2 separate regions of the Homo sapiens genome follow, and region 2 is linked to region 1. Evidence: fine-mapped expression QTL. Tissue or cell type: cultured neurons. Region 1 holds a variant in brackets; the other region holds the start of a gene. All regions are shown on one strand. Distances are between the middles of the regions.

Region 1 (5,229 bases):
CACCCAGGCTGGAGGACAGTGGCGTGATCTCGGCTCACTGCAAGCTCCGCCTCCTGGGTTCACGCCATTCTCCTGCTTCAGCCTCCCAACTAGCTGGGACTACAGGCGCCCGCCACCACGCCCGGATAATTTTTTGTATTTTCAGTAGAGATGGGGTTTCACTGTGTTAGCCAGCATGGTCTCGATCTCCTGACCTCATGACCTGCCCGTCTTGGCCTCCCAAAGTTCTGGGATTGCAGGCGTGAGCCACCACACCTGGCCATCTAGTTATCATTCTTATTACCTACAACTTTTATTATTTTTGATGCCTATTAACTCCTCACTGCTATGTTACTGATAAGATAGACTAGACTGGATCACACTCTATTATTTGTTTTCAAGTGTCTCTAAGCTTTTCAGAGGTACCAACCCAGTTCGTTTAAGGAAACTCTAGTTTCCTTACAAAGTTGGTTGGCAATAAATGAGTTGTCCATTCTGCTTAGAAGAACCTAGCAAGTAGTGCTGCTTGGAACTTTCCCCTTAAGACATAATTTTACTCTGAGCCCCCAAGAAAAGAAGAAGGAAGGAAAAGATGAACAGGAATGACCCGTTGAGGGCAAAACCCATGAAAATTGATCATGGCTCTTTTCTCCGACAATGGCATCATTGGCCTGGCAGAGCACAAGAGAGCTATCAGGGGGACTGTCCTCTTGCATGTGCTCAGGAACTTGTCCTCATTGCCTCCAGGTGCTGGGTTTCTTAGAGCCAGAGGTGGCAGGCATGTGGAGGGAAGGCTTCTGTGGATCCTCCCCTCTTCCTCTCAAATGTTCCTTTGTAGATTTAAGAATTAAAAAGTGCAGTAAAATTTGTTTTATAATTATAGCCCCAGGAAACATGAGTTTTAGTCTTAGCTTCGACATTCACTGAGTAATAATTATTGCAAGCACTTATGTAGTGTCTACTATGTGCCAGATGTTTTTGAATCATGTTACTTGCATCACCTCATTTAATTCTTACAAGAGCTCAGTAAGTTGGTATATATGTGTATTTGTCAAGCTTAGCTAGGTTATGCTGTGATAACAAACAACCACCAGATCTCAGTAGTTTGTTTCTCACTCGTGCTCTTTGTTCGTTGTAGGTTCATGGGAATTCCGTTCCACTCTGTCTTCACCCCAGGATGCAGGCTAAGAAAATGACCTTCATACAGAATGTTTCAGATTTTATGTCAGAGAACAGGAAAGGGCAAATCTCACATTAGCTCTTAAAAGTTTCCACAAGGGGATGACACAGACACTTCAGCTCACATTTGATATCCAGACCTAACTTCACGTGGGCATGGAACACATGGCTTATGTGCCTAGAAGTGGAAGAATCAGAATACTGGTGAACAGCTCTAATGACTAATATCATATATAATTATTAGCAGCATTTTGCAGATGAGGACACTGAAGAACAGAGAGATTAAGTAACTTGCCCAAAGTTACATAATTTATAAGTGGTAAAGCTGGGATTTGAATTCAGGCAGTTAGCTCCAGAGAATACTCTTAACTGCTGTCCATAAGCCTTTTCTGAGGCACTGAACCTCGGTTCAGTTTACCCATCTGTAAAATGGGAAAAGAAACTTTTCTTCTATGCCTTACAGGGATGCACTCAAAAGTCATCCATCCATCCATCTATCCATCTGCTCATCCGTTCATCCATCTGTCTTCCATCCATCCATCCATCCATCCATCCATCCATCCATCCATCCACTCTTGTAGTAATTGGCACACAGTTCTGGACTGAACTGTTTTGCCTCAGAATTCATATGTTGGATCCCTATTCCCCAGTGTGAGGTATGTGGACATAGGGCCTTTTGAAGGTAATCACTCTCTCTTTGCCATGTGACAGCATAATGAGAAAGTGGCCATCTACTAGTCAGGAAGAGAACGTTAACCAGGAACTGAATTAGCTGGCACCTTGATCTTGGACTTCCCAGCCTCCAGAACTGTGAGAAATAAATGTCTATTGTTTAAATCACCCAGTCTATGCAGCAATCTATAGCTGCCTGAACAGATTAATACTGATACAATAGAAAGTAACTGGAGAAGATTCTTTGGATTAGGATGTCAGGGAAGGACCATCTCCAGAAGTAACCTGTGAGCTAAGTTTTGCATGTGAAGACGTAGGGAGGAGAAAGAATGATAAGTAAAAGACTGAGGCAGGAATGAGCATGGCATCTTTGAGGAATAAAGGGAGTCAGAGTAGCTGGAATACAGTGATGAGGAAGAAAACAGTAGGCAATACGGGTGCAGGGGGAAGCAGAGGCCAAGTCATAAAAGAAAGATAAAATATACCAGGGATTTTTTCAAACTTTTTGAGAGATTAACCCTTTTTGAGAATCTGCTGAAAACTATGGACATGCTCATCAGAAAAGACCACATTCATATGACATTTTGCATAAAATACCAGAGGTTTTGTAGCCTTCTACCCTCATGTCTATCCAGAACCTAGACTGGGAACATCTGACAAATATAAAGACACTTTGAATAGCACATAGGGAAAGGGAGGGGAGAAAGAGATTTTCATTGTCTGCAAGCTTTCTCTGTGCTGGGAATTCTGCCAGTTATGATAGATTAATTATTTAACATTTTCCATGATCCCATTTTATAAATGATAAGATTCAGGGAGATTCAGGGAGGCTAAGCAATATGCTTTAGGCTAAATGGGTAATAGACAAAGAATTTAAATCGAGGTCAGCTTCACTCCATAGATAATATTGTTGTTATTGTCGTTGTTATTATTATTATTATTAGGTGTAGGGTCTAGTTTTACCCTGCCAAGGGTATTTTAATTATTTGGTGGAGGCTCTACATTTTCAACCAGCCAAGAGTATCCATTTCCTTTTCACTGGCTCTAGTTGAATAGCAGAGCAGCTCAGATTCTAAGTTTCCATTTCTCTACTGCCGCACTGATTATAATGTCGGCCTTTATTACTCCCAGCAGAGCAGTGAAATACAATCCCTACACCACTACCAATTAAGGCAGCTTCAATT[C/A]TATCTACATGTTCTTCCTCTGTGCAGATGCCAGCAGATCTGTTCCAAGACCCTTCCGGTTGTTTAGTATTCTGCTCAGAGGAGTCATTTGCTGATCATCTTCTTTCTTAATTAGGGATCTAATGTATTGCAGCTGACCCTTGAACAAGAGAAAGATGGAGACCTGGCTGGAAAGGAGGTGTGACCATTCATTTCAAGGTAATCAGCTTTGAAGCTGCTTGACATCTGCTATTGATTTTCTTGTGCCTGGAAAACCTCCTGAGAAAGGTTTCTGATCTCAGAAGTCTGAGCAATCTACGCATTTACTTATTCACTCACTGTGCAAGGCCAGGAAATGGCCTGCAATGAAATGAGCAGAGAAATACCTTCTCTGAAAAACCAAATGCATGGGAATGATTTCAAAGCTCCTTCCGGACCACAATGAAGGAGAGATAGTTAGCAACAGACAAGTTCCCTCCCCTCCATAAAGCCTTATACAGAAACTAATACTTAATAAACTACCTTGGGAGGCTGAGGTGGGTGGATCATGAGGTCAGGAGATCGAGACCATCCTGGCTAACACGGTGAAACCCCATCTCTACTAAAAATACAAAAAATTAGCCGGGCGTGGTGGCGGGCACCTGTAGTCCCAGCTACTTGGGAGGCTGAGGCAGGAGAATGGTGTGAACCCGGGAGGCGGAGCTTGCAGTGAGCTGAGATCATGCCACTGCACTCCAGCCTGGGTGACACAGTGAAGACTCCGTCTCAAAATAAAAATAAAAATAAAAATAATAAACTACCATTTACAGTAGACACTCTAAATATATCATTTCTAATATCAAAACACTGTTGGTTTTATTGCCTTTTCTTATGAATGGGGAAATTAAGGCTTAGAGATGTGAATTACTTTGCCCAGTGTCACACAGCAAGTAAATACCTGAGGTGGGGAGGAAAACCCATGTCAATGTGAGTCTCAAGTCTCTGTTCTTTCACTATGCTAGGCTGCCATAATTTTCTAGGTATGCATTTGCCTTCCTTGACTTTTCACTTGTTGTAATTTTGGGCCAGTTAAGTCAGCATCATTCAGAGATAGGGACTCCCTGCTGATGGAATTTGTCTTCCTTAGGTGTCATATCCAAGTAATTACAGAGTGCAGTAGAGCTAGATTACAATACTACACATTGTCAGTAGGTGTCACTATCTTATCTAATGTGATTATTTGTTCAAAAGTACTCACTGAGCACTTGCTATATGAAAGTCTCTAAGGATATAGTCATGAACTGACAGAGTCTCTGTTTCACTCAGCTTACATTTCAGTAGGGGAAAGTCTGAACCATGAAAAAATATATAATATATCAGATAGTGATCAGTGGAATAAATAAATGCTGAGATTTAAGGCTAAATTAATCAGCTTTGTGAGTTCGAAGTGTGTTGAATGAGGGAGGACTGTCTCTAGTGACACGAAACCAGCTGCCACACAATGTAAGAGGTCATCTCTTGAGAAAGGTCCCTGCCACTGACTCAGTTCAATCAAGCAATGAAAATGATCAGTACTCCCACTTCCACAGTGAAACAGATTGGGAAAGGAAAACCTCCCAGCAAGAGTTTACAGGGTTTACTGCCTGAGTGCTCTACTTAAAACCCTTAGCTGTCACCTATAGAATAAGTCCCAATCTTAGCACAATCTACCAGGCCCCTCATGATCTAATTTGCCTCTTCAGCCTGATCTCCAGCCATATCTTCCTTACACTTTACACCCCAGTAAACCAGAACTGCTTTTTGTCTCCCACATGAGTTTGCTACTTCACTCCTATAGCCCATTGTTGAAAATGACCATTCCATTGGAAAGTCATGTTTATTTTTTCTTATTTATTTAATCTCTACTCCTCTTTTAAGATCAAATTCAGTTATCGCCTCCTCAAAGAAGTCCTCCTTGGTTTCCCCAAGCTGAGTTAGGTACACTCTCTGATACTTCTTCAGCATCTTTGAATTCCATCCCTTGACTTCCATAATGTTTTATGATTGGCTGTTTCTGTGTTTAGTTTTCTGCTTGAAGGAAGGAACTAGGTCTTATTGATGTCTATACCCTCATTGCTGTCTGATAGAAATATAATGCAAGGTCAGGCACAGTGGCTCATGCCTTTAATCTCAACACTTTGGGAGACCAAGGTGGGAGGATGGCTTGAGCCCAGGAGTTTGAGACCAGCCTGGACAACATAGTGAGACCTTGTCTCTC
Region 2 (5,229 bases), 23 kb before region 1:
TCTAATAGACTGAGCTTTCTCCCCATCACCTAGGATAGCGCCTACTCCTTAAGAGACACTCAATACACATTGATTGATTAATTAGTGGATGAATGAATGATTAATCAATCAATCCACCAATGAAAGCACTTTGGAAAGTGTAACAAATCATAGAGTTGTGAGTGATTGTTATTATTATAATTATTATTTTGTGGCAAAAGAACATCAACTTGGTTGGGTTTTGGAAGAGACTGGGTTTACTATAAAATGAGAATAAAAGTACCTAAGTTGGAGTATTATTGGACAACTAGAAGAGAATGTATATACATAATAGACACTCAAAAAAGGGAAGCAGTAGTCTTCGTGGCTATTATTATTAAAAGCTCCTCACAAAAGCTGACTCAACTCGAATTCCAAAACTCATTTTCAGGTGCAGTCATGAAACTTAAAGGTGAGAGAAATGAATACTTTTAAGATATCTACTATGCACCAGGCACAGTACAAAGCACTACTTCATTTGTGAGGTAGTGTAGTGGATACCGTGGGGAAATGCTCAACTCCCCCTCCAAGACCAAGACACTCATGACTTCCCCATGTCCAGCTGCCAGAGTGTTGGTTACCCCAGCTCCCAGGTGAGTCCCTAGTCAGGAACTGTCCTGCTGAAGGGACATCCTAGCTCCCTCCCTAGGACCAGCCTGCACCCACTGGCTGATCAACATTAAGCTTCAAAGGCCTCGTCTCTTTGTCTCATGGGAGGGATTGAGACCTCTCTTGCACTGCACCATAGATCAACATCTCCCTCTGCCCAGTTCTGCTTCCCTTATCTGCACAAAAATCTCAGAAGCGCCAAGTCTTTTTCCAGGGAACCCAAACCATGACAGGTGAGTACAATGATTTCCTTTTAAATCAGAAAAAGAAGGTTCATGAAGGTTGCTAATGTCCCCAAAGCCTATGGCTAAAGTGACTTTCTGGTCTGATTTCCCAGCGAGCCCTTGTTCTTTCTACTACACCAATCTACACACAGCCTTGCCTCCAATGGCTGAGACTGGATCTCTGTGAAACAGAAAGGGGAGCCCAGGCAGAGGGGAAGGGCACACAGAGGGCTTGAAGATGAGAAAAGAAGAGCAGAGGCACCCTTCAGAGGCCTGATGACAAGACTGAGGTCACAGGCTCCAGAAACAATATCAAAATGATGTGCAGGCTGCAGAAGCAAGCATTACACGGGCAGCATCTCTTTGCCTGAATCCATGTCCAGAAGCCAGGGAGCAGGGCTCCCGGGCAGAGGGGGCTCCCTTAAGCAGGGAAGAGTATTTGCAGCCAAGGACCAGAAAACAACTACAACTTACCAGCTTTCTGATGCTCCGGCCTCCATCCATTGTCCCCAGAGCTGCCAGAGGGACCTGATCACTGATCAGAATTCTTCCACGGCCCTCCTTCATTCCAGGATAAAATTCTAAATATTCTAAGGCTGCACTTTAAGGTCTGTGCAGGTTTTAGCTTCCTGCCATGTCGAGAGCTCATTTCCTACCTACAGCAAGACCCGGTCCTACTCCATTATCTGCTGTAGAATTATCTGATGTGCTAGGTCAGGACACCGGACCTTTTCAGTTTCTTTACCTTTACACAAGAAAACCCACCTGGAATTCCTGCTCCCTATCAACTCACAGTCCCAACACACTTTTCAGCCTGGCAAAACCTCCGACTTCCAGTCAATGCTCACCTCCTCTCTGAAACCTTCCTGGCTTCCTCACCGTCCTCTTCTCCATCTCGAGTCTTCCGCACTACCCTGCACTGCAATTGCTCCTCCTACTGTCCCTCTTAGCCCCAGAAGCTCCCCAAAGGCCATTCTTCATGCTGCTAGGGCTTGGCACAGTTCCTGGCACTCAGAAAAAGCCAAGTAAGTGCTGGATAGATACACGAGGTGCTGTATCCATAGCTATTCTCTGCTTCTAGCTTGGCCAGGAAACCACTCTGAAATTTCATCCTGCCCCCAGGATGACTGGAAATCGGAAATGGCATGACAAACCTGACCTCCCAAACCCAAGGCAACAGGTCATGAGGGGTCTGGGGACCTAAGGCAGGTCCTAGGAGCCGGCGCAGAGCAGAGGTCCGGCCGCTGCGGTTCCTGGTTTCCCGCAAGCTCTTCCCCGGGCCGGGCGCTGGGTGGAGGCAGTCTTAGGATCCACAGTCTTGCGCGCCCCCGGCTCCCGGGCCCGGCAGACGGCCCCCGCACGCCGATCTGTCTGTCCCAGGGACCGGCCCAGGGCCCCGGCAGCGGCAGCCTGGGGAGACACCGTGGTGCGCGGCTCCTTGCCTCCCTCCCTGCCCCTCCGTGCGCCCGCATCCCGCGGACACAGAGCCGGAGCTCCAGGGGACGCAGCCCGACGCGAGAACGCACCAGCAGCCCCCGCTCGAGGTGGGGTCTCCCGGCTGTCAGAAACCCCACAAAGTCTACTTTGCGGCGCCGCGCCGCTTACCGTGCGAGCCGCCAGGAACTCGGCGCCCGGTGGTGCCTCGGCGCGGCGCCCGCCAGTCGATCCGCTCCGGGTCCCGGGAGCTCAGCCTCTGCCCCTCAACGCGCGCGAGCGCCCCCGCCCGGCGGCCCGGCCTCCCCGCGCCGCGGCGCCCCATTGGCTCGGGCAACGAGGCCCCCGGACGGCCCCGCCCACCCGCGCCCACTCCCTCGCCCACGCCTCTCCCCAACGCCTTGCTGGGTTCACCTCTCCAGGCAGGGAAAGTTGCTTCTAGACTCTGAGCTCTCACCGGACTCAGGAGCCCAGTTAGCTAATAATTCTGGGTCCCAGGAGTGTCTAGACGCCCCTCGGGGAGTGCGAAGAATGCAGTGTCCTTGGAATCCACCTTTGGGAAAGTCAGCTGACCTCCCGGACCTCAGGTGGCACCTCAGAGAAACCAGGGCCCCTTGTCAGGAAATGTCCCAGGTTGTGGGCTAGGCCCTAGGGCCAGGATGCAACAGGGAACAAGACAAAGTCTATCGTCCTCGTGGACTTTGCATGGGGTGGAGGTGGGGGTAGGTTATATACAACAAACGAAAAAAACAAGAGAATGTCGGCTGGGTGCCTGTGGCTCACGCCTGTAATCCCAGCACTTTGGGAGGCCGAGGCAGGTGAATCACGAGGTCGGGAGTTCAAGACCAGCCTGGCCAAGATGATAAAACCCCGTCTCTACTAAAAATACAAAAATTAGCTGGGCATGGTGGCCCTCACCTGTAGTCCTAGCTACTCGGGAGGCTGAGGCAGAATTGCTTGGACCCGGGAGGTGGAAGTTACAGTAAGCCGAGTTAGAGCCACTGCACTCCAGCCTGGGCAACAGAGCTAGATGCCGTCTCCAAAAAAAAGAAAAGAAAAAGAAAGGGGTCTAGGACTGCTATACCTAGGGTGGTCTCCGGGCCGCTTGTGATATTGGATACTTGGAGGACAAAAACGATTCCAGGGCTGAAGCAAGAGCATTGCTGACAGAGGGGTCGGCCGATGCATGGTTCTGAAGCTGGAACTGGCCCCCAGGGTGGCTGAGTGAGGTGAGCAAGGGGAGAGTGGGTTACAGCCAGAGAGGTAGACTAGTGTGGAATCACCATCACCCAGAACCTTGTAGGCCACCGTGAGGGTCAGGGCTTTGTCATATCAATCTGGAGGGAACAATTCAGGCAAGAGATTATGGTGATGAAGACCAGGGTGGTGACAGCAAGATACGGAAAAGGTGGACCTCCTGCAATGTGTGTCAAAAGTAGCACAGGAAGGCTTGATGATGGATTAGGCTGGATTTAGGGGATGCTATGGTTTAAATATGTTCCCCAAAGTTCATATCTTGGAAACTTAATCCCCAATGCAACAGTGTTGAGAGGTGGGACCTTTAAGAGGTGATTCCATTAATGCCAGGAGTGGCCCTCTCCCCACCCCTCTGCTGCTCTCTTGTTCTGCCTTGTGCCATGGGGTGACTCAGCATGAAGGCCCTTACCAGATGCAGCCCCTCAATCTTGGACTTCCCAGCCTCCAGAGCCATGAGCTAAATAAATTGTTGTTCCTTATAAATTACCCAGTCTGTGATATTCTGTTATATTGGCACAAAATAGACTATGACAGGGGTTGACGTAAAGGGATGAAAGAAGAAAATCTCCTAGGTGTTTAGCTTGAGCCACTGTGGAGTAATGGTACTATTTCCAAGATCGGGAAGGTTCTTACCCAGCATCTTCCACTTACTGCATGAGCGTTAGTACATGATCTCAGTAACTAAGAGGGAGTGACTCTAACCTCAGTAACTAAGAGGGCATAAGACTAGCTGAAGGATCACAAACTTTAATACCGACGTGGCCGGGTAGTCATGTACTAAGTGAGGTTGGCAGGGTATAATAGAAAGGAGGGATGGGGCTTGTGACAGACTGAGGTATGCACACCTGCCTAAGGTGACAGTCACTGCTCAGCTCCAACTGATTTTTGCCATATGTGAATGGAGACCCACCCAGAGTTGCCAGATGTTCTGTTTTTTGTTTGTTTGTTTTTTATCGAGACTGAGTCCTGCTCTGTCACCCAGGCTAGAGTGCAGTGGTGCGATCTCAGCTCACCGCAACCTCCGCCTCCCTGGTTCAAGCAATTCTCCTGCCTCCCAAGCAGCTGGAATTACAGGCGCCCACCACCACGTCTGGCTAATTTGTGTATTTTTAGTAGAGACAGGGTTTCACCATGTTGGCCAGACTGGTCTCGAACTTCTAACCTCGTGATCTGCCCACCTTGGCCTCCCAAAGTGCTGGGATTATAGGCGTGAGCCACCACACCAGACCCTGATTTTTATTAAGAGGCCAGAAATTCAGATTATGTTAAATCTCTGGTTTTTTTAAATGCTGGTAATTAACTACAACTTTTTTTTTTTTTTTTTCTGAGACGGAGTCTCGCTCTGTCGCCCAGGCTGGATTGCAGTGGATTGTCGAGATTGCAGTGGTGCAATCTCGGCTCACTGCAAGCTCTGCCTTCCGGGTTCACGCCATTCTCCTTCCTCAGCCTCCCAGGTAGCTGGGACTACAGGCGCCCGCCACCACGTCCAGCTAATTTTTTGTATTTTTAGTACAGATGGGGTTTCACCGCGTTAGCCAAGAGGGTCTCGATCTCCTGACCTCATGATCCGCCCGCCTTGGCCTCCCAAAGTGCTGGGATTGCAGGCGTGAGCCACTGCACCCAGCCAATTAACTAAAACTTTTTAAAAGACTGTATTGGCCAAGACTGTTGGACAAGATCAAACCCA

Alleles and levels. Alleles are on the strand shown, and positions count from the first base shown. SD is a standard deviation of normalised expression in the study named.
With allele C in place of A in region 1, the expression in cultured neurons of the gene that starts at base 2,546 in region 2 is lower (moderate effect, 0.50 SD a copy in Aygun 2021).

What was found. PIP is the estimated chance that this variant, and not a neighbour inherited with it, causes the effect.
Region 2: SYN3 starts here. The variant in region 1 is fine-mapped to the expression of SYN3 in cultured neurons (Aygun 2021, PIP 0.95).

The regions. Positions count from the first base shown.
Region 1 is chr22:33,079,266-33,084,494 of GRCh38, forward strand. It overlaps a transcript of LARGE1 not described here. Among named protein-coding and RNA genes, the nearest start is that of SYN3, 23 kb to the left of the region's middle. The variant C/A (reference allele first, on the strand shown) is at 3,015.
Region 2 is chr22:33,055,836-33,061,064 of GRCh38, forward strand. It overlaps SYN3 (synapsin III), which reads right to left and starts at 2,546. Exons shown (of 14, transcript NM_003490.4): 1 at 2,457-2,546.